7 linked regions of the Homo sapiens genome follow. The protein of the gene in region 6 interacts with the protein of the main gene of each other region in a biochemical or structural test. Each region holds a gene or a part of one and is shown on either strand. Other genes may lie near its edges.

Region 1 (3,500 bases), on a different chromosome or scaffold from region 6:
TCCCCAGCTGAAGCGGTTCTCCTGCCTCAGCCTCCCCAGTACCTGGATTACAGGCATGCACCACCACGCCCGGCTAACTTTTGTATTTTTAGTAGAGATGGGGTTTCACTATGTTGGTCACGCTGGTCTCGAACTCCTGACCTCAGGTGATCCACCCACCTCAGACTCCCAAAGTGCTGGGATTACAGGTGTGAGCCACTGTGCCCAGCCTTTTCCTTTATTTTTCTATCCCATTTCTCTTTCAAGCCTCTTTCTCTAGTCTCACTCCTCCTCTCATCTTCCTAACATAATAAATAAGAAAGCCAAGGGCACACTCCCACTTATCTTTTAAGGGAAGAAACACAGCCAGCATGACGACAAAAAAAAAAAAAGCCATAGCCTTTGCAATCAGACAGATCTTGATTCAAATCCCAGCTCCAACCCTCAGTCAGGTTCATAACTTGGGTTAATAACTTCAGGATCATAACTGTACCCACTTCCTAGGCTTGCATTAAGAATTAAATAAATGAACGCTTAGAAAAATGGCAAGCGCACAGTGTAAGCTCGCCAAGTCACATATCTCAAATGCCATCTTCCCTGTGAGATCGAACACCCAAAGCAGAATTAACACAGCTTTTTCTAAGCTCTCAATAAGGACAGGCCATAAATATCTTGTCCCCATTTTCCCTCGTCTCCCAATACCTAGAGGCTGGAAACTTTAAGGGCTAGGCCTTCCTCCCAGGTCCCCAGTGCAACCTAGTGCCTGGCCCACAGGAAGCTTTCAGTATGTGGTAACTGAACCAAATCTCAATCAGAGTCACGCTCAATTCCCCCAGAAGGAGTCATCTGTCTATAAAGAAAACCTCAAAGGATCTGCAAAGGGCAGAAACCCAAAACAGCTCTAATTTGGACAATCATCTCTTATGTACAGACAATCCCCGATTGGTTTGACTTGCGATTTTTCAATTTTACAATGGTGTGAAGCCATCATAATTTTGACATATTTTGAATTTTGATCTCTTCCCAGGCTAGTAATATGCAGTACATGAGATATTCAATACTTTATCATACAATAGGCTTTGTGCTAGATGACTTTGTGCAACTGGAGGCTAACTTAAGGGTTCTGAGTATGTTTAAGGTAGACAAGGCTATGATGTTGGGTAGGTTAAGCTGTATCTAATATGTTTTCAACTTATAATATTTTCAACTGACAATGGGTTTCTGAGGATGTAACTCCGCTGTAAGGTGAGGAACATCTGTAAGAGATCATTATATCCATGCATGTCTCTAAATCCTTTCTGATCCAATTCGTATGCCTGGCGTATCATCGTCTTGGAAAATGACGACTTCCCAAAGTGTATCTCATACAGAATAAAACAGCACTTTTTAATCACCTTAAGTTTACCTCTTTGAACAATTGAGACAAGTCTCTAGTTTATTAACTCACCCTTATTTGTTTCTCTGTCCAAGGCAATGGCTGGTCAGGAGCATGCAGAACTAAAGGTTTTGTAGCAACACTTACAAAGTTTAAGGTGGCACTGCTAAAGATCATTTATTTTAGACATTCCTATCTTAATAAGTGCCCTTTACAACTTCTTGAATTCCCACTCTACAAACCTGCAAGCCTATGAAATCTCTACCACACACAAGCTTTGCCCTGCCTTCCAAAGACTGGATAGCAGAAGGACAAATTACCCACAAGTTAATGTGTTTTGTTTTTTTTTTTTTTTGAGACAGAGTTTTGCTCTTGTTGCCCAGGCTGGAGTGCGATGGCGGGATCTCGGCTCACCGCAACCTCCGTCTTCCAGGTTCAAGCGATTCTCCTGCCTCAGCCTCCCAAGTAGCTGGGATTACAGGCATGCGCTACCATGCCCGGCTAATTTTGTATTTTTAGTAGAGATGGGGTTTCTCCATGTTGGTCAGGCTGGTCTCGAACTCCTGACCTCAGTTGATCTGCCTGCCTCAGCCTCCCAACGTGCTGGGATTACAGGCATGAGCCACCATGCCCGGCCGAATGCTTTCTAAATATATAGAATCAAGAAACCATCAGAATCTGATATAAAAGTGAATATTCACAAGAGAAATCAAACATTCTTTGGAGTCATCTGTCTGAACTTTTTCAAAAGTAGGGCAAGAAATCCCTCCTAAAAAATTCAGAGAATAACTCTTAATGAATTGATGTTCTTAAGAAATTGTCCTGACAGCTATTAATACTTCATTAATGGTTTTAAATTCTCTGCCTCCCTCTCTCAAGAACAAACCCCTTTATGAGTTAACTCTAATGAGCTGATACTGGTATGAGGGAAAGTACAAGGCTTTGCCTGTGCCACCATTTACTAGTGCAGCCTCATCCAGCAGAAAGTTACCTAGCCACTGACTAAGTCATCTCATACGATTGTTACACAGATTAAACAGTAACATAAATATGGCAAAGCACCTCTTACCACAGTTCCTAAACTGTGTGGCCTATCTTCTGGAATTAAAGCATTTATCCTCTAGAAATGTTTGTTCCTTCTTTACCTTTCTTTACCCTTATATTGCAAAATGTATGTCAGCCACTGCTTTTAACTCCAGACCCGACCCAACGGGGTGTTGGGGGGCACATTTCACCACTCACACATATGACCACTCCCAGATCCTTAGGTTCCATTTTCAATTCCCCTCCATTCTCTGAGCACCCTTCAGCCTTTCAAGACAACTCAAGGAACTTAGAGCTCTAAACCACATCACAAGGAAGTAATTTAAATCTAGGTAAATGGTCTAGGGGTACATCCCATTGTCTTAAAGTACAAGCTAAAAGATGAAAAACACTGCAGTCTCAATCTACCCCTAAAACATTTATTGCCCTAGTCTCCACTTCCCAGATGGGCAAAGGCTGAAGGAGCCTACTGAAATGCCAACAATGTAGTAATTGAAACACATTATAGGTATCGGCCAATGTGCCCTACACAACACGAGGTGGGCATGCACACACACACCCCCCAAAAGCGTGAAGACATCACTTGACACAGGTGAAAATACTAACATGCTAACCAAAGGTCAATATTAGCCCTTCTGAAAGGATGAAGGAAAACTCCAAGAAAGCATTTCTGTAGCTTTACAGTTCTATGCAATAAAAAAATGTTATTAAAAGAAAGTATTCCAAGGTTTTCTCACGGGACTATGCCATTTTCTCAACTGCTTCCCAACCCCCAAACCCCCATGCAAGGGGGGTTTGTCTTTGTCTACAAAGACAGTGTTTGTAGACATCAACAGCTTCTGTTAAAAGGATGCATTTAACAGTTTGAAAAATATTCTAGAGATAGTATTTTACCACATTCAGTTATTTTGTTTGTTTTTTAAATAATCCTCAAGTGACTGTCAAGTTTAGTAACTTTGTTTCCATACCAAAGCTCTTTAAACAACTCTTCCTTGTGTAAAGCCAGCTGCCCACATCTGTCAGGTAAGAACTTCAAAGAACGCACATACCCACTGAGCAAGGCCAAAGCAATCCTGGATATGCTATGCTGATAACAGCCTGA
Region 2 (3,500 bases), on a different chromosome or scaffold from region 6:
CAGTGAGCCGAGATCATGCCACTGTACTTCAGCCTGGGCAACAGCAAGACTCCGTCTCAAAAAAAAAAAAAAAAAATGCAAGCAGAAAGGAAGTAAAAGAAAAGAGAAGAAAAGAAGAAAGGAAAAGTAAATGAGCTTCTTGGAAAGAAATACACAGAAAAAAGGCCCTGGAATTTAAATAAGGCCTTGGAAGATCCATGTGGCTTCATTTGTAAAACTGGTGAGCTACTCAAGAAGTAATGAAGAAAGAGCACTTTAAATCACCATCAGGCCAGGCGTGGTGGCTCATGCCTGTAATCCCAGCACTGTGGGAGGCAGAGGTGGGCGGATCACTTGAGGCCAGTAGTTCAAGACCAGACTGCCCAATACGGTGAAACCCCAGCTCTACTAAAAAGAAAACACAAAAATTAGCCGAGTGCAGTAGTGCACGTCTGTGGCTTGAGCCTGGGAGGCAGAGGCTGCAGTGAGCCAAGACTCACTGCACTCCAGCCTGGGCAACAGAGCAAGACTGTCTGAAAAAAAAAGAAAAAAAAAATCACCATCAATTTCACAGGGTCTTGCAAAGAATGATTTTATAAGATAATTCTTTTTATACTGGTAAACAAGGATTTTGCAGCTAAAATATTCTACCAAATTAGTTTCCTGCCTTATTCCTTCTCTGAAAATTAATCACAATAAAGCTCCTCAATGAGTTACACTCAAAGGGTTTATTACTGTACTTTTAAGTTCAGCATTCTCTTTGGCTTGATAGAAGTCTACGTCCATGGTAACCAATGCATCCGCAGCAAGAGGAAACTTCTGTTTATAGCAGGATAGCATAGTGGGTGAGTGGGAATTCCAGCATATAAATTCCAGCCTCACAATGTATTTGTTGTGTGACCCCAAGTTAATTACCTAACACCACTAAAACTCGGTTTCTGTATTTGTAAAACAAGGATAACATTCTATTTTATAGTTTTGTTTTTTTTGTGAAGATTAAAAAGAGATGATCTACACAAAGTACTTAGTACAATGCCTTGCACATGGCCGGTGTTCAATGTTAGCCATTATATTAATATTTTTACTGAAGTGGAAATAAATAGTAGGCAAAACAAAAGGAAAGTAACAATGTTGAATATGAGTCACATTTATGTAAATGTAGCTGAAAGTAATAGCTACTAAATATTAATAGTTCCATCTGCAAGGCTAAATTTGAATATTAAAGTTGATGATATAAAGTATAGGCTATATACAACTTTTTTTTTGAGACAGAGTCTCACTTTTTATTTTATTTTATTTTACTTTATTTTATTTGAGACGGAGTCTCGCTCTGTTGCCCAGGCTGGAGTGCAGTGGTGCAATCTTAGGTCACTGCAACCTCTGCCCCAGGGTTCAAGTGATTCTCCTTCCCCAGTCTCCCGAGTAGCTGGGATTACAGGTGCCCACCACTACACCTGGCCCTTTTATTATATTATTATTTTTTTTTTTGTAGAGGCAGGGTCTCACTATGTTGCCCAGGCTGGTCTCAAACTCCTGGCCTCAAGTGATGCTCCTGGCTCAGCCTCCCAAAGTGCTGGGATTACATGTATGAGCCACTTTGCCTGGCAAGGGTCTCCTTTATGTTAAGGATGGCTTCCTCCTTTTACTTCCTCTCTGGGCTTTCCTTTCTATCTCCTTCTACACAAACAACTTTAACCATTTTTATATATAGGCCCCAAAACTATGCAAATATACATACATATTTTTTTCTCTTTTTAAAAACTCTTTTCTTTTTACCATACAAAGTCTATAACTCAAATGCAAATATACTAAGTACATCACAGAATCGTATCTACTAAACAGCTTGGTTTCAGGCCAGGCGCAGTGGCTCACATTTGTAATCCCAGCACTTTGGGAGGCCAAGGTGGGTGGATCACCTGAGGTCAGGAGTTTGAGACCAGACTGGCCAACATGGAAAAACCCCGTCTCTACTAAAAAATACCAAAGGCCGGGTATGGTGGCTCACGCCTGTAATCCTAGCACTTTGGGAGGCTGAGGAGGGCAGATCACTTGAGGTCATGGGTTCGAGACCAGCCTGGCCAACACGGCAAAACCCCGTCTCTACTAAAAATACAAAAATTAGCTGGGCGTGGTGGCATGTGCCTGTAATCCTAGCTACTTGGGAGGCTGAGGCAGGAAAATCACTTGAACCCAGGAGGCAGAGGTTGCAGTGAGTCGAGATTGTGCCACTGTACTCCAGCCTGGGCAACGGAGTGAGACACCATCTCAAAAAAAAAAAAAAAAAAATTAGCCAGGCGTGGTGGCGGGCACCTGTAATCCCAGCTACTCAGGAGGCTAAGGCAGGAGAATCACTTGAACCCGGGAGGCGGAGGTTGCAGTTAGCCGAGATCGCACCGCTGCACTCCAGCCTCAGCGACAGAGCGAGACTCCATCTTAAAAAACAACACGAAAAAACAAAACAAACAAAAATCAGCTTGGTTTCAAAGTACACTGAAGCACAAGATTCAAGACAGAAATCATATTAACAAATGGGAAAGTCCCACTAAAAATCAGGAACCAAAAAGAAAACCAAAATTACATTTTCAGGCCTATAGTCCCAGCTACTCAGGAAGCTGAGGCAGGAGGATCACCTGAGCCCAGGAGTTTAAATGTAACCTGGGCAACATAGCAAGACCCTGACTCTAATTACAAAAAAAATTAAACTTCAGTTTTACAGAAGCACCTATGGTAACTTAATTGCTTGATGTCCAACGCCTGGTCTTCAAGTCCCTGTCAAATTAGGAACTTCCACAATTCTACTCTAAGTGACCCAGGAGTAATACTGGGGAGGTAGATGTAGGTTTGATTGTAATCAATTTTATTAACCCTATCAATGAGAATGGTTATGTGAACAGAAAGGGGACGTTCTATGTGAAAGATAAGAACGGGGCTCAAGAGCCAGAAGCTGGCAATCTACCCAGGAAGAGACAATGTGGCAGGCATAAGTGTGGTATCTGCCAGGGAGATACCAAGTACGGGGTGAGATTAATTGGCAAGGATTCACCCTGCCTGAATGAAATATTCACCGAAACCATCCACATAGTTTAGCTCTGATTAAGTTCACTTAGATGCTTTATTTATTTATTTATTTATTTAGGTAGATATAGGGTGGCTCACTATGTTGCCCAGGCTGGTCTTGAACTCCTGGCCTCAAGCAATCCTTCTGTCTTGGACTCCCAAAATGCCAGAAGGCGTGAGACACCACACCCAGCCACTTTGATGCTTTCTGGTTAGTTTTTCAAATATTCCGATATTAAGAGTCAGAAGCTACAGACAGCGAATATAAGCACTCTGCCGGGCGCAGTGGCTCATGCCTGTAATCCCAGCACTTTGGGAGGCTGAGGCAGGCGGATCACGAGGTCAGGAGATCGAGACCATCCTGGCTAACAAGGTGAAACCGTCTCTACTAAAAAACAGAAAATTAGCCGGGCGTGGTAGTGGGCGCCTGTAGTCCCAGCTACTCAGGAGGCTGAGGCAGGAGA
Region 3 (3,500 bases), on a different chromosome or scaffold from region 6:
ATTTAATGTGCCTATGTTCCACGGCTTATGGAAAGCCTACATGTGGCTTGTGTATTAGCTAAATTTGTACTCCTTGTTTTGTTATTGTGATTAGATGTTGATCTTAAAAAGAAAACACAGGCCGGGTGTGGTGGCTCACGCCTGTAATCCCAGCACTTTGGGGGGGGCCAATGCGGGCAGATCACCTGAGGTCAGGAGTTTGAGACCAGCCTGGCCAACATGGCGAATCCTCGTCTCTACTAAAAGTACAAAAATTAGCTGAGCATGTTGGCAGGTGCCTGAAATCCCAGCTACTCAGGAGGCTGAGGCAGGAGAATCGCTTGAATCTGGGAGGTGGAGGCTGCAGTGAGCTGAGATCATGCCACTGCACTCCATCCAGCCTGGAACACAAAATTGAGACTCTCTCTCAAAAAAAAAAAGAAAAAGAAAGAAAGAAAACAAAAATATTTTCAATAAATTTTACTTTTATAGTACATGCATATGTATGCTTATCTTACATATTATCATTATTTGAAATAGTATTTTAAAAGCTTCATTTGTGGCTGGGTGCGGCAGCTCACACCTGTAATTCCAGCATTCCAGCACTTTGGGAGGCCAAGGCAGGTGGATCACGAGGTCAAGAGATGGAGACCATCCTGGCCAACGTGGTGAAACCCTGTCTGTACTAAAAATACAAAAATTAGCTGGGTGTGGTGGTGCACGCCTGTAGTCCCAGCTACTCAGTAGGTTGAGGCGGGAGAATTGCTTGAACCTGGGAGGCAGAGGTTGTGGTGAGCCGAGATCGCGCCACTGTACTCCAGTCTGGTGACAGAGCGAAACTCCATCTCAAAAAAACAAAACAAAACAAAAAAACCCAAAACAAAAAAAATTTTCATTTGTGCCATCTTAAATCATCAATATAGGAGTGAAAATGTTGTGAGATAAAATTACACATCATTAGCTTTCTTCATAAATCTAAGAATTTGAAAGATATATAAAATTTCCTAGAGTTCATTTCATATCATATGCAGTAAATAAAAGTTGCACCAAAAACAAACCTTTAACTCTTTGGTCTCTTGTAATAATGCTGACAGTCTTCCTTCTACATCAGTAGTTTTGGTGGCTATTATAGTCTCGGTCTCTCCTTGTACCTCAACTGATTTTGCCTGAAATTAGAAATTGGAAAAAAAGATGTCTCTTAAACATTACAATCAATATGAACTCCCAAAGGGTTATTTAATTTTTTTGCCATTTTGATATTTTACTTTCACTAACAGAAAATATAATTCCTTATGTATTTATGTGCAACAAAGTGCTCTCCACTGTCAGATGAGCTGTTCCCACATGGAAGAGCATCAAATCTCATAAGAGTACGAGGAAGGCTGGGCTAAGGTGCCTCAAGGTAGGTAAGCCCAGAAAAGTAATCAGCAAGGCAGCTCTAATGTAACTGTAACCCAGCATTTAATAAACACAGAATATTTTTCAAAGCCTTTCCTTCATAAATTTCCTATAAGTCCATACTACCACCCTAGATAGGTAGATAAATTGAGCCAAATATCATTATTAGTGAAATGCAAATCTTTTCTCAAGTGCTAGAGGAGACACTCCTGAATAACAGTTTTTCAGTCTTTCCTTGTCTTTTTTCTAAAATACTAGGAAGTCGGGTAGTGACACAACAAATATCTAAAAATGTGGAAGTAGCTTTGGAACTGTGTAATGAGTAGAGGCTGTAAGAGAGGTGCATGGTAGACAAAGCCTGCATTACCTTGATGAGACTGTTGCTAGAGATATGGACATTAAGTGATTCTGGTGAGAGCTCAGAAAGAAAAGAGCGGAGTTGGAAAGAAGCTTCATGGTCATAGTGAGAAGAAGAATGCTGGCAGAAATATGAATGTTAAAGGTGCTTTTGGTGAGGTCTCAGATGAAAACTAGGAACATGTTACTGGGAATCGGAGGAAAGGCAATCCTTGTTATAAAGTGGCAAATAACTTGGCCAAATAGTGTTGCAGTGTTTTGTGGACAGCAGAACTTGTAAATAATGAATTTGGATATTTTACTGAGGTTTCTAAGCAAAGTGTTGGAGTGCAGCCTGGTTTCTCCTTGTTGCTTAAAGTTAAATGTGAGAGAAGAGAGATAAATTGAAGAAGAAATTGCTAAGCAAAAAAGAATCAGAATTAGAAGATTTGGAAAATTCTCAGTCTACCTATATTGCAAAAGTATGAGAAGGAATGTTCTGGAGAAAACAACAACGGTTTCTGAATATTTTATGACAGCAGAAAAACTGCCAGCTTGGACTGAAGGGACAGAAATAGAATGTAATACCAGCAAAATAAACTATTAAGTAACTGAATAAACTAATCTGGTGAGACTGACTATAAAACGACTGTCACCATGAACATGAAGCCTATGTTACTAGAATACCGGCTAGTAAGTAATCTAAAGAGAAGGTGCTATCTGATGAATTTGTTTCTTTTTAATTGTGGCTAAGAAATAATACATCAACCTTGTCTTTATTACCTTCCAGAGAAAAAAGAGAAAATACTTACAAACGCTTCTGTTTTCTGTAACAGTTCCTGCTTTTCTGTCTGTAGTTTGGTGATCTCCACAGATTGTGAGTTTAACTGAGACTTTAAAGTTGCCAGTTCCTAAGAGACAAAAATAGTTGAGTCATAACATTAAATGGTATTAAATTCATCAAGGAAATATTTACAGGGAGACATTTAAAAAAATGATTTACAACCTCCTACTTTTAAAATCTAACTCTAAAGAACTATTCTTGAATTTTGGGTTCAAGATGGAAAATTCAACACATTCATTTACCTCTGCTCCCTCCTGAAATCCCATGCAAAAAAAAAAAATCATAAAAGACAGGAAGGGAGGGGAGAAGGAAGAAAGAAAGGAAGGATGGGAGGGAGAGAGGAAGAAACCTACAAAAACAAGAACAGTAAGAGAAGAGAGCAATATAATTGGGGAATTTTGAGAAAGCAAGTAACAGTGATAACTAAATCAGCACACCTGAGAAAGCTGAAAGCTAGGATGACCACTGAGAAAGTTAAGATAGTACCTGACTTACAATGAATGCATTAACTACCAGAAAGGTTAGGAACTGGTATCATTAGATACCACTGGAAGTACAGATAAAAATGAGGTTAAAAACTGCAGGCCTGGTTAAAAGACTATTTAAGAAATAGATCATCAGATCCCTGTCTCAATCTTAGGCATCAGGCAACCGTTCCTCCTTTCCTGGATGAAGACTTGAGGTTTATTATGTGGCTGGGCAAAACAGGACATCTTTAGACTAGGGACCACCAAACACAGATGAAAGCAGTAGTACTATAATGAAAACCAGGGTATTAATTGAAAGTTTTTATTAATGTTGAATTTCCAAACTTCTCACCTTCTCCTCCCCCAAAAAAAGTACAGGAAAAGAAAGGCAATTATAACAATGGCTCTCAGCAGGAGTGATTTCTCCCCATATCCCCCCATCCCCGAGGACATTTGGTAATGTCTGGAGACACTGA
Region 4 (3,500 bases), on a different chromosome or scaffold from region 6:
TCTTCAGCTTCAATGAGACGCCCATGGGACTTAACTTTGTCAGTAGTGTTCAGTTGTAAAAAAATTTCCAAAAATGCTATGAAATGCTAGAATAGATCATTAAAGGTGAGGTGAAGGGACAGAAGAAAAAAACAAATATTTAAAATTATAGATTGAGATCAGTATGAGAATGTTGGGAGTCCTTAAATAATTTAACATAAGGCTATGAGTGAGTTTGTACATATTACTGTTTGTAATATGTAACTGTTGGGACAAGGGAGAGGGCCAGGGGATAGGTGATAATCAGGAAGAGAAACATAGGGAGCTTCAGTTACTGATAATGTTACAATTAAAGAATTTTTTTTTCTTTGACACATCTGCAGAGGATCATAAAAGTAACATTATAATTCTTAGGGTGGGAGGTAAGAGATCAGAGAACCATGAAGAACCACCTAAGCTGGACTTTGAATTAAGACAGGAAAGTCAAGGTTGGCAGGAGCCAATGATAAAGTAAGAGGAAGCATGAGATAAAAATGGAAAAGTAGATTAGGATGACATTGTAGCAGCAATGTTAAAAAGACAGTGAAATGGGAATTGGAAACCCTAAAATCTCAACCACGGTTCTGCCACTCAATTTGCAATTAACCGTGAACATATCCTAAAGCCAAATCTGAATAAATATTCTACAAAATAATATAAAAAGTAACTTACTCAATATCTTTTCGTACTGATCCCATAAGATTCTCCCTTTCCCGTATTGCCATAAAGTTTGCTTTGGTTTTATGGAATTCATGTGTATAATCCTGTAATAAATCAACATCCAGTCTCAACAGAAGCTAATTATGGATTTTCATCTCACTGAACCAGTTATGTATCGTCATCACACTGTAAATTTGTCAAGAAAACTGCTATTTAAGAAATCAAATTAACCAAAGGTAAAAATAACTTTAAAATTACTTTCCTGAAGAGTGACCAACTTCTTTCAAGTGAAAATAATTCAGTGCTAGGGAAACAGTGCCATTAAATCACTATCCTTTGTACCTCCTAGTACTCTGTCTTACGAGGCAGAATTAAGAAGAAAAAAATTCTGAGATAAAATAACTTCAAATAGTCTAGGAGAAAACTTGAGAGGCTCTTTTTACTTAGTAGTATACTTAATAGAGCTTATTTTCAAATTTCATCATTTTGGAGCTCTCACAAAAAATTTAATTCCTAAACAAAAAAGAACAGAATCAAGAGAATTATAAGGAACAAAATAATCTTTAAACATTTTCTACTATTTTTGTACCACTGTTAAAAGTACTTCATTACTTTTCATAAATTCAGAGATGTAGATAAAGAAGAAAATCAAAATCTTGTCTCCCAGAGTCCCTGTTGACCTTTTAAAAAACAAAAGTAACACATAAACATGGAGGAGAATATTAAAAGAGCACCAAAAGAAATAAAGGTGAAACAAAGGAAAACAAAACATTCTGCTCCATACCTCATAACTGTTACCATCATTTTGTATTTTCTTCCAGGAAATTATTATTTTCTTTTTTTTTGGAGACAAGAGTCTTGCTCTGTCGCTCAGGCTGGAGTATAGTGGTGCCATCTCAGCTCACTGCAAACACCACTTCCTGGGTTCAAGCGATTCTAGTGCCTTGGCCTCCCTAGTACTGGGACTATAGGAGCGTGCCACTACATCCAGCTAATTTTTGTATTTTTAATAGAGATGGAGTTTCACCATGTTGGCCAGGCTGGTCTTGAACTCCTGACCTCAACAGTTCCACCCACACTGGCCTCCCAAAATGCTGGGATTACAGGCGTGAGCCACTGCACCTGGCCAGGAAATATGTTTTTACATATACAAGCTTATCTATTATTTCTTTCACTTTGCCAAGTAAGTCATAATATACATTCTGATGTACACCTTGCTTTTTGTACTTCATAAAGTATCAAGCAATCTTTCCATATTAGGAAAAAGAAATCTACATCATTCTTTTTAATAGCTGCATAGAATATTATCTTATGACTATCACAATTTAATAAATTCCCTACTGATAAACACATTAGTTGTTTTCATTTTGTTTGCTATTAAAAATACTGCAAGACTAGGCAGGGTGGCTCATGCCTGTAATCCCAGCACTTTGGGAGGCTGAGGTGGGCGGATCACTAGAGGTCAGGAGTTCGAGACCAGCTTGGCCAACATGGCGAAACCCCGTCTCTACTAAAAACACAAAACTTAGCCGGTGTGGTGGAACGCACCTGTAGTCCCAGCTACTTTGCTCAGGAGTTTGAGGCAGGAGAATCACTTGAACTTGGGAGGCAGAGGTTACAGTGAGTTGAGATCATACCACAGCACTCCAGCCTAGGCAACAGAGCGAGACTCTGTTTCAAAAAAAAAAAAAAAAAATACTGCCAATAAACATTCTTACATATATTTTTTAAACTGAACTCTTTTATTTTAAAAAAAACTATATTTAGGCTGGGCGCAGTGGCTCACGCCTGTAATCCCAACACTTTGGGAGGCCAAGGCAGGCGGATCATGAGGTCAGGAGATGGAGACCATCCTGGCTAACACGGTGAAACCCCATCTCTACTAAAAATACAAAAAAATAGCCGGGCATGGTGGCGAGCGCCTGGAGTCCCAGCTACTCGGGAGGCTGAGGCAGGAGAATGGTGTGAACCCGGGAGGCAGAGGTTGCAGTGAGCCAAGACCGCGCCACTGCACTCCAGCCTGGGTGACAGAGTGAGACTCTGTCTCAAAAAAAAAAAAAAAAAAGTATATTTAAAGAGTAAATGTCTATTAAGTTCAACAGAGCTTAAAAAAAAAAAAAAGGAGTAAATGACTAGCAATAGAATAATTGGATCAGGGCTGGGTACGGTGGCTCATGCCTGTAATCCCAGCACTTTGGGAGGCCGAGGTGGGTGGATCATGACATCAGGAGTTCAAGACCAGCTTGATCAATATGATGAAACCCCATCTCTACTAAAAATACAAAAATTAGCTGGGCGTGGTGGCGCACACCTGTAGTTCCTGCTACTCGGGAGGCCGAGGCAGAAGAATCGCTTGAACCCAGGACGTGGAGGCTGCAGTGAGCCGAGATCGCACCATTGCACTCCAATACTCCAGCCTGGACAACAGAGCGAGACTCCGTCTCAAGAAAAAAAAAAAAGAATAACTGGATCAAAGAATCTCACATTCATTTAAATTCTGGTAGTGCTAAACTGCCTTCTATAAACATTACATCAATTTATGTTCCCACCAGCAATATATGAGTACCCTTTTTAAATTTTTACTCTTGCCAATAATGGGTTATAAATGTTTCAACATTTGCTAATCTGACATGTGAAAAATCACCTCTTTTAGATTTCTGTATTTTTATTTGGAAATACTGCTGAAAATGTTTTTATAGTTTTGGCCATTCATTTTTTTGTAAGCAATTTTATATCCTTTGTCCATTTTCCTACTGTCTTTTTCTTATTTCTATTATATCTCTGTGTAGTAAGCAAATTAGCCATTCGTTATGGTTTCCAGT
Region 5 (3,500 bases), on a different chromosome or scaffold from region 6:
GCAGGCCACCCTCTGCGAGAGGGAGAGGAATTCGGGAGCCCAGTCGGGCCTCAGGCACACTCCAGCTGCCACTTGGGGGCAGGTCCTTCTGGAGGGAGTCCTGGAGGAAGCCCTAGAAGTGCTGACCCAAGACAGAGGCCTTCTAGGCTGCTGAGGAGACCAGTGATGAGGACGGCCCCAGGGTACCGGCCACCTGCTTGGGGAAGCCAGGCAAGGTTCCAAATCGGGCCTCCAGCGCTGTCTCACAAGGCACCCGGCCAAGGGCAGAGGCTGTGGGGAGCCCAGGGCAGGCAGGGGCCCCTGGACTGATGAAAGCCAAGGGTGTCCTGACTGGAAGTTTATCACACACCAGGTGCCGCGCTGGGCATGACTGCATCATCTCACAGCAGTCTCTGCTTTAACAGACGAGGAAACAGAGGCCCAAAAGACTGACTTGCCCAGGATCACAGGGGAGGCAGGGTCCTCCCAGACCACCCACCACCTGCGCTGCTGAGCCACACACAGTTGCTACATGACATTCTCTGTGAGGCTTTTTTTTGGGGACAGGATCTCACTATGTTGTCCAGACTGGTCTTGAACTCCTGGGCTTGAGCGATCCTCCTGCCTCAGCCTCCCAAAGCACTGAAATTACAGGCATGAGCCACTGCACCTGGCCTTGTGTGAGGCCTGACTAGCCTCAGACACAAAGCAGCCACTGCCCTTGATGCCAATGTGCCCCTTGCCCCACTGGGAGTCATGGCTGGCGTGCGTATCTTTAGGCTGTAGCTCTGGAAGCTGCACTAACACCCTTCCCTGCTCAACACCACGTCCCCAGGGCTCTGGACACGGCACCTGCTCTCAGCTCTACCCAGGTGAGGCTCTCCTTTCAGAACTGCCCCCTTTCTTCCTTGAAAGATCTCCCATAGCCAAATTCACGCCCCCAGCCTCAGCTCTGTGCAAGTTGGCCTCTGTGCCCTGGATGTAACATCATCTTTATACTTTCCTACCGGTCGGAGTCCTCAGCCACCTTCTGAGCTTCCTAAGGCCAGGGAGGGGCCACATCCAGACTCCAGGCCCACACCCTGCAGAGTCTCGCTGGAGAGCTAGAAAAGCTCAGATCAAACGCAGGGGAGGGACCCCACCATATCCCACTGCCAGGCAGGGCCTGTCTGCAGGAAGTGAGGGGTCTGCTGAAAGAGCAAATGGCACTCTCTGTTCGGCAGCCTGGCGCTCAGTGTTGCCCCAGAGTGTCCTTCCAGTCACTCCAGATGGGGCAGCAGCTGAACGTCACAGATGCTAAGACAGCACCTCTAGGCCAACCAGTTTCCCAGGGAGCAGAAGGAAAGGCTTGGCGGGGCAGTTTAATGGAAGGCATGGAGACTCCATGTGGTGAATCAAGCTTAAAACCAACCCAGGGTCTCCCTGGGTCATCACTGCATCAACCACGCAGCCTGCTGTGGCCCAGTGCTACCAGCCAGGCAAGCCCCATGGCCCACCCAGTTACAAGGCTGCTCCTCGGCCTCTTGCCAGGCCTGAGCCCCACCATGTGACCACTGAGGCCAACGCATGAGATGCCCAGCTGCTGAGGAGCAACTGGTCAGTCTAAGGACAGAGAAGAGCTACTGGTCAACACAAATTCATCCTCATCTGGGAACTAACACGTCAGATCACGACAAAGGGGTATGCCAGCAGTTCTCAAACACGCCATGTGAACCAGTGCTCACTGATCCATGGAGGAAGCTCCCTGCACTGCTGCAAACCTGTCTTCTCTTGGGAAGGACAGGCTTTTATTCCAAGATTATATAGCTGCTTTTTATTTTTTAAAGATTCATATATTTTCCATTCCCCTGAGATGACAGTGACAATAGATGGTCATTTTTAAAAACTGCCTGTGCTTTCTAATTAGCAACCTGTACCTGGCACCAACATTTTAAAAAATAAATTAAAATTCCCGCCACATGCAAGCAAACACTGGGCTGGACCTCCTCTTCGGGAGGCACCCAGGGGGACAAAACTGTTTTCTCACCATGAGTCAGCCCCAAACTGGGTTTCTGTCCCTAGCACGCTCTCATTTTAAGTAATTTGTTCTCTGGCAACTACATCTCGGGCTCTGTTCTCTCTAATTCCTCCCCAGGATGTAGGGAAGCCAGGTTGGGCTAATTTCCGCTCCTTTTTCGGCAGCAACTCCTACCTGGCTGGTCTCAGAATCCTCCCCGCCCCCCACACCGCTCCCTTCTGCATGTTAATTCTGACAACAGAACAGATTTTCCTCTCTCCCCGGCAGGCGGTGGGTCTGCAATGGAACTCCCACTCCCAAATGCTCCGGGATTGGGAAGGGGTGATCAGCTGCACCGACACCACCGACACGGTAGATAGGGGGGCGGAGACTTGAGCAGGGCGCGAATGCCAACTGGAAGGAAGAGAGCCAGTTCTAAAGTCAACGCTCACTCTGCCTCAGGCACGCCCCTGCCAGCCTATCACATGTCGGCCACTGGAAAAACCAGAGCCGCCAGGAAACCTGAGGAATCAATGCAGGGTGCTAGGATGGCGCTCCGGACAGCCAGCCCGTGTGGCCCGCAGAGGCCCTCACCTTGGGGGTCGGCTTTCTTGAATGCGTTGCCAGCGTCCACAAAGCAGGTGGCTGCGTCGTGCTTGCTCTGGAGCTGCAGGTGCAGCTGTGCAGCCTGGCAGAACGCGTTTCCAGCAGCTGGAACAGAAGAGAAGGGCAGTCCTGGCCTCAGTGGGGCTCCACACTTTATGAAGCCACAGAGACACTGCCCTGGGAGGTGGGTCGGGCTCTCGAGAATGCGGAAAGAGTCCCCAAGACAGGACGAGGGTGACCTGAGCGAGCCCAGACCGAGGCCTAGAACTCAGGTCTCCTGGCTCCTGCGCTCAGGTCTGCTGGCTCCTGCGCTGAGGCTCCTGGTGGCCCACCTGACAGTCTCTGAGGGCGGCAGGAAGCTGCCTCGGGGGAAGGCCCTGAGCCCCAGGTATATGGAAAGAGAGCCAGGGTAAGCCCAGGTAAAACACCATGTCCCTAATCCCAGCTATGCCAGCATTTCCAGGGCCACCACTTCTAAAGATCCAAGGAGAAGGCAGATAGAGCTGAGTTGGAAAGGATATAAAACAGAGTGAGGTGGCCTCCTGCACCTCCCGGCCTGGGCAGTCCTCCCCAGGGGAGCCTCGAAGCACAGGGCCCAGAACCACCACTAGAAGGCAAAGTACAGGCTGAAATCATGGGGTGGCTTCGGAGGGGTATTTTGGGAAGCAAGGGGCAACTGAGATTAAACCACATAACATCTTCCCATCTACTCCCCTTTCCAAGTCCTGTTTCTTTTTCCACAGCTCCCCAAAGCTCTTCCTGATTCTCCCAACTCCTCTGCCTCTGTTCACATTCTGTTCCCTTCACTGCAGATCCCCATGGACAAGGCACTTGCATGAATTGTGAGGCTCATGGAGTTGGGGTCGGACAACACAGAGCCGGCTCCCTCCAGGAGCTGCATGTCCAGAGAGGGAAACAG
Region 6 (3,500 bases):
ACAGACCATTGCAGTCAGGAAATCATGGTTCTGAGTGAAAAAGGAAAACATAATGACACGGACAGGAAATCAGGGGATAAAAAAAGCTCTATGGCCAACCATGGTGGCTCAGGCCAGTAATCCCAGCACTTTGGGAGGCTGAGGTGGGCAGATGGCTTGAGCTCACGAGTTTGAGACCAGCCTAGGCAACATGGCAAAACCCCATCTCTGCAAAAAATACAAAAATTAGCTGGGTGTGCTGGTGTGACCCTACAGTCCCAGCTACTCGGGAGGCTGAGGTGGGAGGATAGCTTGAACCCAGGAGGTTGAGGAGCTTGATGCTGCAGTGAGATTGTGCCACTGCACTCCAGCATGGGTGACATAGCAAGACTGCCTCAGGGGGAAAAAAAAAAAAAAACACCAAAAAAAAAGGTATATGGACCCTAGTTTTGGCCAGGCTGTAATCCCAGCACTTTGGTAGGCCCAGGCAGGAGGATCACTTGAGCCTAGGAGTTGGAGACCAGCTTGAACAACATGGTAAGACACTTGTCTCTACTAAAAAAATAATAATAAATAAGTATATTGGAGGATGTGAGTAGATTACATGCAAATATGACAAGATTTTATGGGACTTGCGGATGCATGGATTTTGGTTTCCTCTGGGGCTCTTGGAGCCAATGCCCCACAATACCAAGGGATGAGTGTGCTTAATCTGATAGTTAGCACCTTGAACAAGTGATTAAATTGACATCAGCAATAAAAGGGATAACCTCATCAAGTGCCTACTAATGTAATCATCGCAGCACTAATTTAATCAGTGTTAGATTTAATTTAACATTGAACAAAACAAGTTGATGTCATGAAAAATAAAACAAAAGGCCCACTGAAGACACACATCAAATACAAAATGTGAATCTTCCTGGGTCTTAAATTGAAAGAAAAAAGATAAAAACTTTTGTTTTAAATATCAAATGGGGGCCGGACATGGTGGCTCACACCTGTAATCCCAGCACTTTGGGAGGCCGAGGCAGGCCGATCACGAAGTCAGGAGATTGAGACCATTCAGGCTAACATGGTGAAACACTGTCTCTACTAAAAATACAAAAAATTAGCCGGGCATGGTGGCGGGCACCTGTAGTCCCGGCTATTCGGGAGGCTGAGGCAGGAGAATGGCTTGAACCCAGGAGGTGGAGCTTGCAGTGAGCCGAGATCGTGCCACTGCACTCCAGCCTGGGTGACAGAGCGAGACTCCGTCTCAAAAAAAAAAAAAAAAAAAAATCAGATGGGGAAACTTGAACATGGGCTGATTACTGGATCATGTTGGAGAACTGTTAATTTTCTTAGTTTGAAAATGACATTATGGGCAGGGCGTGGTGGCTCACACCTGTAATCCCAGCACTTTGGGAGGCCGAGGTGGGTGCATCACGAGGTCAGGAGATGGAGACCATCCTGGCTAACACGGTGAAACCCCGTCTCTACTAAAAATACAAAAAATTAGCCAGGCGTGGTGGCGGGCGCCTGTAGTCCCAGCTACTCAGGAGGCTGAGGCAGGAGAATGGTGTGAACCTGGGAGGCAGAGCTTGCAGTGAGTGGAGATCGCACCATTGCACTCCAGCCTGGGAAACAGAGCAAGACTCTGTCTCAAAAAAAAAAAAAAAAAAAAAAAAAAAAAAAAGACATTATGGCTGTTCAGGAGAATGCCTTATTATTAGCATGCTGTAGTATCTAGGAATAAAACAGCATGAAATTTGCACCTACTTTCAAATAATTCGGCAAAAGAAAGAGGGGAAAGGCTGAATGTGGTGGCTCACGCCGATAATCCCAGCACTCTGGGAGGCTGAGGTGGGCGGATCACAAGTTCAGGGGTTTGAGACCCGCCTGACCAACATAGTGAAAACCTGTCTCTACTAAAAATACAAAAATTAGCTGGATGTGGTGACGTGCACCTGTAACCCCAGCTACTCAGGAGGCTGAGGCAGGAGAACCACTTGAACCCGGGAGGCGGAGATTGCAGTGAGCTGAGATCTCGCACCACTGCACTCCAACCTGGGTGACAGAGCAAGACTCCATCTCAAAAAAAAAAAAAAAAAAGAAAGAAAAAGAAAAAAAGTGACAAAATGTTAACAATTGGTGGCCAGATCTGGCCAACGCCTGTAATCCCAGCACTTTGGGAAGCCAAGGTGGCTGGATTGCTTGAGTTCAGGAGTTCAAGAACAGCCTGGGGAATATAGGAGACTCTGTCTCTACAAAAAAATTTAAAAATTAGCTGGACATGGTGGCATGTACCTGTTATCCCAGCTACTGGGGAGGCTGAGGTGGGGGGATCACTTGTGCCCAGGAGTTTGAGGCTGCAGTGAGCCATTATTGCGCTACTGCACTATAGCCTGAGTGACAGAGTGTCACCTTGTCTCAAAAGAAAAGAAAAAAACAAATATGAAAACAAAAAAAGTTAGTGACTACAGGTGAAGGGAATATGAGTGTTTATTGTGCTATCCTCCCAACTTTTCTGTAGTTTGAATATTTTATGAGGTGAAAAGGAAAATGACTGAGCAACATTAGATCAGTGGTTTTCACACCTTAGGAAAAATAAGAATCACCTGTTGAATTCTCAAATATAAAAATTCTCAAGTGTCACAACCAGAAATTCTAGGTTGGGGCCCAAGAATCTGCATCCCAAAAAACTTCAGACTTAATCAGTGGTTTCTAGAGCAAGTGCTGAAACCCAGATCCACTGGCATGCAGGGAGGAAGCATATGAATGTCTACACCTATTTTAAAGATGGCATCCTTTCATAAATTTATTTTGTATATGGTTGCCCATAAATTCTACTTCCTTATTTCTTTTATGCTCCAACATACTGTAAAATTGCTACTGAGCCATTCCACTGAAAATACTGGCACTGATCCAATTAATTCAAGCCCCTCCTGACTCAAACACATCCTTACCTCGAACTTTCTTTCTCAGGAGCAAGGAGAAATAACCACTCCTTAAAATTCTTCTATCCCAAGTTCTAAGGACACATTTCTCTCTCTGCTTTCTTCTCTCATCTTCCTCAACCTTCCTCCTCAGTCTGGCCAGATTCTTCCCTTCTCTACATACCCCCTGACTCCATGGGGGATCTGTCCTGACCTTTTTTTCACTTTACCCAGTCTCTGGGTGGTCTATGCCCAGGGTTTCACCAAGAGGCCACTGTCCTAAGTCCTTACCTCTAGCACTGCCTTCTCTTCCAAACATCAGAACATGAAATGCCTACTAAACTCTGTCATTTAGCTGTCCCATGAAGTCTGAGGCACTCAGCACACCCAGAACAAACCTAATTCTCACCCAGCATCAATCCGCTTGCTTCTTCTTATGTTCTCTCCCTGACACCAAATTTCTTGCTGTGACACACAGGTTATCTGTGACCTGGCCTTGCCTCTCACCACTCCCCCAGCCATGCTGAATAATTCTGCACTCCTGTATCTACCAAGTTCTTTCTCATTTCTGTGCTGTTTTTTCCTCACATGGAACAGCTTCTCCTT
Region 7 (3,500 bases), on a different chromosome or scaffold from region 6:
TTAAGAATACAATAAAAAGCTTATTGTGCTAAGTCAGAGTCTCTGTGCTCATCTCTTTTCACACTTGGGATTGACACCAATGGGAAGAGTAATGATAATTACAGTTTGCCCCTTAACCCTGCTTGCTCCCAGGAACTCCAAGGAGAGCTACTTGTTCAAGATGATTTTTATTTACTCATATGTTAATAACATGGGTTTTTTAGTGGCATGGTGCATAGGTGATTTCAGAGTCAAAAACTGTGAAACTGTGACAAAAGAGTATTGTTTCAGGTTGAGTGGAATGGGAATGGGAGGAAGGAGCTGGCTCACAAAACACATTACATTTTTTCACAGTCCAACTTGAAAGTTAAGGAGGTACTTATTTCAGAATTTCCCTAGTATATATGGTATTGAGCTAAAAAATATTCAGAAGGGTTAAAATCCTTCCCCCATGGTAACTCCCAATGCAGACTGGCTCATTATGGTTTCAAAAGCAGCCCAGGGCAGAGAAAATTAAAAAACTAAAGGAGAACTTTCTGGCTTTTTCCTGTAGGGAAGAAGTTTATTTAAATGATCATCAATAGCTAAGAGATACTTCTAGTTCAATGGTGCTTGGCCCTGAGTGCATATCAGAATCACCTGAGGAGCTTTAATGGGCCACAGGTGCTTGTGTCTCACTTCAAGAGATTCTGGTTCAATTGGTGTGGATTGGGCCCAAACACTGGTAGTAAAAGAAAAAAAAGTCTCCCCTGGTGATTCTAATGTACAGCCAGGCTTGAGAACCCTTGGGCTACTTTCCCTGGGAGCAAAGGGAGAGCTGAGTTCTGAATTGGCTGATGTGTGTAACTTGAGTTTTTTTTTTTTTTAAAGGAAATGCCCCTGAGTCATAATTTGAACTTTTAAAAATAGATATTTAAATTGGCTTTTGATTCTAGGTTTCAAAATAAATCATTAATAAGAAGCTCATTATTCTCTATTTTCACTCCAAATCCGTTCTTGGACCTTCTTTGCTCTGTGCTCTCAGGAGCTGACCTCATGACTATATCACCCAGCTCCTCTTACCCTCTGGCTTTCAGTAGGCTTTGGCTAATGGCCAATGAAACTGCAGGGCAAGAGGAGTGAGGGGCTACAGCATTTATTTCCCTCTTTCACTCCCTGTTAGCTTTGGTAGTGGCTGTATTTCTCTACTGATAGTTCCTTGCCCACAGTCGTAACTATTGCTGGGTTCTGATAATCATTCCTTCTCCTGTCCCCCAGGACTATGGTGGTAACAACTTCCTGCTATTGCTAGCTCAGAAGTGCTTCACCATTCCTTGTTATTAGTCCTGCCCACCCCTCTGTAAGTAGTCTCTTTTATAAGCTCTATTCAATTAAACTCATGGAATGTGATGCCTGTCTACTGCCACATTGAGTCTGGATGTGGTCATGTGACTTGCTTTGTCTAATGAAACCGGCAAATACAAGGTAAGCAAGCAAAGGTTTGGTAAGTGCACTGAGGCTTGCCCCCTTGGAATACTGCTACCACCATGTAAGGAACCTGGGCTCTCTTGCTGAAGAGGCCACATGGAGAAGAACAGACATGCCCCACCAACAGCCCCAGCCAACCACCAGACAAGTGAATGGGGCCATCTTGGATCACCCCACCCAGGCAAGGTCCAGGAAAGGCTTAGAAAAGAACACTTAGCAGGTATGTAGATTAATGAGCAATAAAATGGTTGTTTTTTAGAAAACCACTCAGTTTTGGAGTTGTTTGTACTTGACAATAGAGAACTGCTACAGTGTATGCTGCATGAGGCTCACCTGCGGATGAAGCCGCCACTGATGGCCATCTGCTCCCGTTCGTCCACTACACGAGCAGGCTGGCTGGCCACCACTCCGTCCTGATTATTGCCCCAGGCTTTTTTGTAAGCATCACTTGATTTAAGCCTATGCAAAAGAGAGGGTGAGTGACAAGGCACAGGGGTGGAGGAGCAAGCTCTCAACAATTGTCACTTCTTCAAGCGAAGAATCGAACCAAGCGAATGAGTTTTAAGTCGAGGCATTAGATAATACCGATATATCATAATCCAGACCCAAACAGTTGGCCACCACCATGCCTCAGCTACTCAACATTTCACTTCCAATCGAATCCATTGCAATGGACTGCAATCTTTGCCCACAAGGTTGTTCTTGTTTTGGTTTGTTTTGTGGTTTAGTTTGGATTTTGGACAAGGATTAAGGTAGCTGGAGGACATTTAATTCTATTTTAGTGATGTGATTATATTTGGAGACATAAAACAGAGAAAAACATACTGGCAGACAGACACAAAACAAGACTGCCAAGTAGAGTGTGCACATCACACCACAGCAACACACTGTCATCAAGAAAACATCCTCAACCAAGTTTTTACACACCATCATGCAAAGATCCCTGTGGAATATTTTTTTTTCCCAACACGTGTGGAACTAACATTTCCAAAGCTCCATGAAGGACATAAAGGATTGGTGGTTGGCCAAGAGTGATGGTCTTTGCATTGCCTCTAGAGTGATTTGAATTAGATAATATATCGGTACTTCCAAACAGTCACCATACATCCAGAGTTGATGTACAAACCTTTGTCCACAGAGACAAAAAGTAAAAGAAGCATAGTGAAATGAATGCAGGAAAAGAGAAGAGAGAACAAGCCATCTAGCACCAAAAAGGGAAACCCCTCTACGTCTTCTTCATGCACCAGCTACAGGCATGAGTAGAAAGTGAAGCATTCTCATTTAAGCCAAACTACTCCAGAAGTTGACCATTCTCGAAAAAGGCACTAGCAGGACAGTAATAGCCTTCATGAGGATTTGAAACGCAGGTTCAGTAGCTTCTTTGTTGGGCTGAGGGGCAGGGCAGAGAGTGCTTACAAACTCCTAGTTTAAACTATCCTGGGGTTGTAATGGAGGAGAGTGGTTTAATGCTGGTATGGTCTCCATGGGCTGTATTTCACTGAGCTGCCTTGGAGAAAAGACTTAAAATCCAGGCATACCTATTGTGCCCAATAGAAACATGTGCAGCATATTTTGGTGAGTGTTGTAATTAAAGGCAATCAAAGATGTTTTTAGGTTCTTTACATAGTAGAAACCATATGCTTTTTAGTCCAAAAACAAGAGACATTCTTTGGTCCCATTTTCACATTTTTTTTTGTAAGACACCAGAATTTAACATTTTATCTTCTTCTTTCGCCAGAGGACCACAGCCATCTATTAAAACTGGCTCTAATACTTGCAGACTGGGGGCCAAGCAACCCTAGAGACAAACTGGAAAATTGTACCAATGGAATTTCAGCAACTCCCACAATCAAGTCTATAATGCCGCAGGCCTTAGTGCAGTCAAAATTAATTGCACCAAAGGGCCATGGACCCATTCAATGAAACGAGATCCCCAAACTAAATTTAATAGGGCTTAGAGTCTGGCTTTTTTAATTTTTATTTTTCCAACTCCCCATCTCCTCCCTCCTCAGATTAAAAGAAGTTATATGGACTTTGTGATGTTTTCTGCTATG

Evidence for each region.
Region 1: the proteins of STX5 (region 6) and VAPB form a complex in vitro, tested with the Homo sapiens proteins (one study listed by BioGRID).
Region 2: the proteins of STX5 (region 6) and SNAP23 form a complex in vitro, tested with the Homo sapiens proteins (one study listed by BioGRID).
Region 3: the proteins of STX5 (region 6) and USO1 form a complex in vitro, tested with the Homo sapiens proteins (2 studies listed by BioGRID).
Region 4: the proteins of STX5 (region 6) and GOSR1 form a complex in vitro, tested with the Homo sapiens proteins (one study listed by BioGRID).
Region 5: the proteins of STX5 (region 6) and NAPA form a complex in vitro, tested with the Homo sapiens proteins (one study listed by BioGRID).
Region 7: the proteins of STX5 (region 6) and SNAP25 form a complex in vitro, tested with the Homo sapiens proteins (one study listed by BioGRID).

Annotation. Positions count from the first base shown.
Region 1 is NC_000020.11:58,395,729-58,399,228, reverse strand, and holds part of VAPB (vesicle-associated membrane protein-associated protein B/C), read right to left. Parts: intron 1-3,500. UniProt on the Homo sapiens protein: Endoplasmic reticulum (ER)-anchored protein that mediates the formation of contact sites between the ER and endosomes via interaction with FFAT motif-containing proteins such as STARD3 or WDR44.
Region 2 is NC_000015.10:42,502,134-42,505,633, reverse strand, and holds part of SNAP23 (synaptosomal-associated protein 23), read right to left. Parts: intron 1-3,500. UniProt on the Homo sapiens protein: Essential component of the high affinity receptor for the general membrane fusion machinery and an important regulator of transport vesicle docking and fusion.
Region 3 is NC_000004.12:75,808,077-75,811,576, reverse strand, and holds part of USO1 (general vesicular transport factor p115), read right to left. Parts: intron 2,625-3,500; coding exon 2,526-2,624; intron 1,146-2,525; coding exon 1,038-1,145; intron 1-1,037. UniProt on the Homo sapiens protein: General vesicular transport factor required for intercisternal transport in the Golgi stack; it is required for transcytotic fusion and/or subsequent binding of the vesicles to the target membrane.
Region 4 is NC_000017.11:30,487,408-30,490,907, reverse strand, and holds part of GOSR1 (Golgi SNAP receptor complex member 1), read right to left. Parts: intron 783-3,500; coding exon 691-782; intron 1-690. UniProt on the Homo sapiens protein: Involved in transport from the ER to the Golgi apparatus as well as in intra-Golgi transport. It belongs to a super-family of proteins called t-SNAREs or soluble NSF (N-ethylmaleimide-sensitive factor) attachment protein receptor.
Region 5 is NC_000019.10:47,498,064-47,501,563, forward strand, and holds part of NAPA (alpha-soluble NSF attachment protein), read right to left. Parts: exon of another isoform or gene 3,394-3,500; intron 2,687-3,393; coding exon 2,570-2,686; intron 1-2,569. UniProt on the Homo sapiens protein: Required for vesicular transport between the endoplasmic reticulum and the Golgi apparatus. Together with GNA12 promotes CDH5 localization to plasma membrane.
Region 6 is NC_000011.10:62,808,052-62,811,551, forward strand, and holds part of STX5 (syntaxin-5), read right to left. Parts: intron 1-3,500. UniProt on the Homo sapiens protein: Mediates endoplasmic reticulum to Golgi transport.
Region 7 is NC_000020.11:10,295,330-10,298,829, reverse strand, and holds part of SNAP25 (synaptosomal-associated protein 25), read right to left. Parts: intron 1,906-3,500; coding exon 1,780-1,905; coding exon of another isoform or gene 1,776-1,779; intron 1-1,775.